Regions from separate parts of the Homo sapiens genome. Here region 1 is linked to region 2. The links come from fine-mapping of genetic effects on gene expression. Tissue or cell type: tibial nerve. Region 2 holds a variant in brackets; the other region holds the start of a gene. All regions are shown on one strand. Distances are between the middles of the regions.

Evidence for each region.
Region 1: SYNDIG1 starts here. The variant in region 2 is fine-mapped to the expression of SYNDIG1 in tibial nerve (GTEx, PIP 0.97).

What each region holds. Positions count from the first base shown.
Region 1 is chr20:24,468,549-24,471,449 of GRCh38, reverse strand. SYNDIG1 (synapse differentiation inducing 1) reads right to left here and starts at 1,821. Exons shown (of 4, transcript NM_024893.3): 1 at 1,697-1,821.
Region 2 is chr20:24,370,726-24,373,626 of GRCh38, reverse strand. No RefSeq gene overlaps it. Among named protein-coding and RNA genes, the nearest start is that of SYNDIG1, 97 kb to the left of the region's middle. The variant T/C (reference allele first, on the strand shown) is at 1,453.

The DNA.
Region 1 (2,901 bases), 98 kb before region 2:
CCTCAGGGCCCACAGGCCTCATACCTGTGGTGTGGACCTCCAAAAGAACGGGCCACACCACCGCCAAACACAGAGCACGCAATTCAACTAAAAATTCGACTTCAGTTTCTTCCTGTCCGCGCCAGAACGGACATCAGACTGCCCCCCGCCCGCCTCCTAGCAGCTCCTTTTCACTTCGGCTGCTGCCAGGATTTCGCGACCTAGACCCCTCTTTGAAGACCACTTCCGATCCCCGACGCGGCAGCCCTTGAGGTCGCAGCCTAGCACGGAGAAGTTGGCCGGCTCTGGGGGCTATGAGGCTGCTCACCCCACAGGCGCAGGTCTACGCAGCACACACACCACCTCCTTCTTTGGACTCAGACCAAACACGCTGGGCTGTAGGAGGGAGACGGACAGATACACGGACTCGCGCGCGCACGCCTCACCAACTGATTCCAACCAGAAAACGGAGCCACTGTGTAACGCCCAGCCCCCCTCCCCTCGACACCCCCAATCAGCCAAGCCTTCGGCCGGTGTCTGCTGCACTAAACACCAGGACGTGGCCAGGGAAGGCGCAGGCATCGGTCCGAGCCAGGAGCGCCGCGGCGCCAGCGCATCTGACGTCGCAGGAGGACTGTGCGCACCTGAAGTCTGGGTGCCAAGCGCCCAAGCCTCTGCGTGCAACGAAACCCCCAAAGGAAAACAGGACTACCAGAAGACCCCTTCCTCTCGTCTTTCAGAAACGCCAAGCGGCCCCTCTGGCCGCCTCCTCAAAGCTCGGCTGCCAGAGCCACTCTAGTAGGGTCTTGCAAAAAGCGCATAGGGACAAAGCCCCTTCCCTAAGAAAAGTGCCCAACTCATCCAGTGAGCCATTCCTTCCTCCTCACTGCCCAGAGAGTGCACATGAAGAGGCAGAAATCACGACTAGGAAAAAGCGAGATTCAAATTGGAACCAAAAAAGCGTATGTGCTCGCTCCCATCTCGGCGCCAGGGCTGTGGCTCCCAGGGCTGCAGGCTGTCGCGGCTGCCAGGGGCCAGACAGCTTTTGAAGGCAGGTCTTGTCCTGGCTAGAGGAAAGAGGCTCCAGGAGTCTCTGCTTCCGCCACGGTCGCCCGTCGGGATTCCCCATCCCAAGCGCGCTTGCACCTTGCCTGCCGCTCCGCTCGGAGAATTAGTCTGTTTCCCTTCCTACTCCCAAACAGACCTAGGTCCCCAGCTCCGTGGCCGCCCGGCTCACCAGCCCTGGCTGGTCTCCTTCGGGTCACTCCGAGGGGCAGCCCGAACCCGCAGAGCCTTGGCCCGCCGCGCGCCCTCATGGCCCTGCTGGGCAGCCTGGCTCCGCTACGCTCTCAGTTCTCGGTCTCACCAGCTCCCATCGAATTCGCACAGCAGCCCCTTCGCGTCTCCCGGGGTGGCAAGGCACCAAGGTGCAGCCCAGGCCAGCATCGACCCCTTCCTGGGCATTTTCTCTGCCGGCTCAGCTCCCCCTCCCGCCCTGCGACCCCGTGTCTCCCAAGTCTCGTCGCGGCGACCACCCGGACTTACCGCGGGCGCCACGCCGCCGCCGGGTCTGCGCGCTCCGAGGCGGAGCCAGGACTAGGACACCCGCCAGCGCAGGGCAGCCTCCAGCTCCCGCCGCCAGCTCGCGGCCCCTGCCGCGACCCCGCCCACTGCGGGCCCCTCCGCCCGCCCCCGCGGCCGGGAGGTCTGGACTTACCTCCGGGACAAGGTGACCCGGCAAGTGCGCCCAAGCGGCCGCCCGCGACTCTCCCGAGCGAGCGAGCGTGCGGGGCGGTGCGGCGCCCGCCTCTGCTCCTCCGCTGCCAGGCTCTCTCCTCCTCTGCCCTCCCCTCAGCGCCGCTCTGCTCCCCACGCCTCTCCCCGCCCTGCGCTCTCCGCCTGCGCCCCCGGCTGCCCCGAGCGCCGGGCGCGGGGCAGCGGCGGCAGCCCGAGCGGCGGGGAGTCGGGAGCTGCGGCGCCGGGGCGGAGCCCAACCCTCTCGGCCCCCGGGAGAGGAAGGGGTGCGGGGAGACTCTCGTCGCGCTCGCCTGGCCGGCAGGCTGGGCGAGGGGCGCCCTGGGGCGAGCCGCTCCTCTTCGCTTGCCGAGCCTGCCGACGCGCGTGCTGGAGGCAGCGGGCGCGGGCCCCGGGGGAGGAGGGCAGGGAAGAGAAGGAGGGCGCAGCCCGCGCGAAGGTGGCCACCAACTTTGGCCCAGACCAGGGAGGCCCTAGCGGGGGATCGCGTCCAGATGGTGGCCCGCGGCCAGTGTCTGACAATGTGAGGGCCACAGAGGCTGGGGGCGGGGGATAGCTGCGGGGGACTAGGAGGACAGGAATTTGCTGCCCGACTAGAGGAAGGGATGGCTCCCCTCGGTCCTAAAGGCCTCCCCAGGCTGCGGTTCGGTTTTGAGGTTAAAAATGACCCAATTTATGGATCCGGCGAATGTTCAAGTCCTGACCAGCTAAGCCCTGGAGGAGCAAGCGGGCGCGGAGTTCAGACTCCAGAGACCCCCTCAGCCCTGAGCCAGCCTGTTGTTGGCCCATGGCGGGCCCGCCCCAGTTGGAATTGGAAGGAAACTAGGGCGGTGGTAAGACAGTCTGCGTTCTAGGAGCGGAGGAGGTGGTGTTTGCAGTGTAGATTTCATAGAGAATCAACTCTGAAAAAAAGATTTACCAGAAAGGGGGTCAAAAGTTATTTAGAAAAGCATCTGTGCGCCCCCGTTTCAACACTAGGCAGAGGCCCCAGTCCTGCCACCCGCAGGCTGGTACACTGGTGGTCAGAGAAGGTTAAGCTCCAGAGTTCCATGGCTCCCAACCTTCCTAGAGCCCTCCCTCCTGCCTGGTAACCCACCATTGCGCTGCGTCTTGCCCAGGTGTCCTGGTGGGCAGGGGCAGGAGTTAAAGGTGGTGCCAGGAACAAGA
Region 2 (2,901 bases):
TGAAGACCCCTACAAAGGAATGGGATCAGCATGAGAATACAGTTTTTTTTCCTCTGTCCCATAACCCTGCACTCTTAACCAATCAACCGTCTCCACACTTTGGCTCCATCTAAAACCCTTAAAATCCTTAGCCCCAGACTCTTCAGGGAGACGGATTTGATGTTTCCTCCCATCTCCTCATTCGGCAGCCCTGTAATTAAACCTCTTTCTCTGCTGCAGCCTGGTGTCTCAGCATATTGACTTCCCTTGTGCATTGGGCAATGGCCCTATTCCACTTACAGAAGTTTTAGATGAGAAGCCTTTTCAGAGCCACAGGCACTCCATGCCAGTTGGTCTTGGCCCCAGGGGTTAGTGGAGCATGTTCCTTGGAGAACAGCAGTTGGTTTCCAGCATGGCTCTCCCAGCTGCCACTGTGAAGCAGAATGTCGACTCTGATTTTCATTAGATCAAAGTACACCTGAATGTTTTCCACATGGAAAATGTGATGTGCTGTGGAGATGTGACAATCATCTTCCCTGCAGGGCAAGATGATCCTTCTAGAAGGGCATCTGTTTGTGTAAGCGAAGCTGGGATGTGCAAGTGGCCTTCTGCGGCCTGTCATACGTTGGCCTCTGGTAACTTCTGTTTTAAATACAAGTGATTAAGGAGACTCTGTAGAAGTAGAACTAATGCAATGTTACACCAACTGAAAGTGTATTTTTACTCTGTGTGATTGAATCATTACAGGCTTTCCCCTGTAGTGATTACAGCAGCGTCTTGAAAGCCAGACTCCCAGCAGCACTGCTGCAGGACCACGGACTCGTGAGAAACGTTTTCAGTGGTGTCTATCTTTTGGCTTTGTTCTCTAGTTAGGATTCATCACTTTATGTTCCATTGTGAAAATGAAGACATATATCAGCTCTGAGAGTTATTCACAAACTCCAAACATGTTTGCCTACAATGTTCCACTGCTTTGAGGCTAGAGAGAAGAATGCTGTTGAAATCCCTAAATCCCAGCATGTCTTGAGGGACACCATAGAAAGATGACTCCATATTCCAGACAACACCTCCGTCCGCGTCAGCCACTCAGGATCATCTGGGATTCCAACTGTCAGAAACACTAATTTCAGAGTGAAAAACCATAAAGTAAAAGAAAAACCCATACCCACAGGGTCACTAATGACAAAGTGGCTGAGTGCCAACAGCGTAAACAACATTTAACTTAGTTAAATTAGGTAAAGTTTAGCTGAGTCTTAACTACTTAAGATTAATTACTGCATAAGAAAAATAAAAGTATCCTAAATTGTACAGCTCAGATATAAGGAATTTGACAGACATCTCCTAAAACTTGGCAACAAGATTAAAATGTATATGACATTGCCAATTATCAGTTATAAAGCTAAAAGAAACACTTAAAACCAATTAATAAGACAAAAACTTTTCATCAACTGTGTCAAGAAAACAGCAAACTCA[T/C]CTTTCCATTTTCTCTGTGGAGAAGGATGCTGTGAAGTCATTGACGGTGGAGAGGGCCCCAGCGGGCAGGCATTAAGGAAGTACGTTAGAATGGCTGTCGGGCAGCTGGTTCATAGAAATGTGGCATTTTCCCAGAATTTGTGATGTTTGTAGCATCTGCTGGCTTTTAAAATGTATGAGCTGTGATTTCTCTTCTCACTCTAAACAGATAGTCTTTTTCTTAAGAGGATACCCATATTGGAGAAACTTCAAGTCCCATAAATCTGGGTCTATCTGTAGTTTTCAGCTTGTTATTTTGCTAAGCAATAACATTAGAAACTAAATCAGACTCAACCAAAGTGACCTACCAGCTATCTGCATTTTCAGTTCATAAAACAATAATATTTTAACATGAAAATAGGAAAAACAGTTGTTACTGAGATAAAAGGGCACCTTAACAAAAGATGTATGAAAGCACAAACATGCTGCCCTTGTTTCCCCCTTGCTTTTCTGGGGAACCTGAAACAGAGATGATGTGTCCACCGTCTGGCCAAAGCCACCTGGCCCCCAAGCATCCATTGCCCATGAGGCAGAAGGTGGGCCCTGACATCACTGCCTGCCATCCAGATGATCTATCCATGGCCTCCCAGCTGCACACCCAGCACCCGACAGGCCTCAAGGCCAGACCTACAAGGCCTGAGCACCTCCCCTCCTCAGGACTGTCTGCACGTCCCTCCCTGTTAGAGTGACCCAACTGTGAGGCTCTGCTGCTGCCCAACATGGGGATTTTAACCCAGAGGGCAACAGCTCTCCTGTTCTGGCAGGTGCTTCAGTGATCAAAGAGGGCCCCTGCTTATCTCCAGGAGTCTCAGGGCATGGAACTGGGCTCTGCCTCTAACCCCATTTCACTTTAGCCAACAGCCTCATTCATCATCAGCCTCCCTGCAGGGCCTCAAGCACCAAGATGAGGGCCATGGATTACTTTAAACACTTGAGTCAGGCAATAAGATCTAAGTGGACCTGTGCTCCCGTTCCCACCCCTGCCAAAGGAGTGAGTAACTGAACTCAATAACTTGGCTTGGCCTGGGCTCTGTTCCCAGTGAGCGGCCAACATTGAACCAGAATCCATGCTCCAGAGGATGCTCCCAGCATAGAACCAGAATCCTCCCTTCAGAGGAGGCTCCCGGGGCTTTGCTACTAGTACAAAAGATGGTAGGAAGAAGCTCTCACTGGTGAACTTGGTCGTTCAAGACAGCTGGCCCTACAGTCTGCTGGAGACCCTCACCTGCCTTTGTGTGAACATGGCCTGCAAGCCTGGGACCTGGAACTGCACAGATGATCCCGGACTGCCCTGGGCCAGCTGCTGGGTGGGGGATTCTTGGCCCCCCGGTCTCCTGTAGATGATGTGCCATACCCTCCTGCTGGGCTCTGGCTGTGTTTGTCTCAGGTGAACTTTTCATCCAGGATATT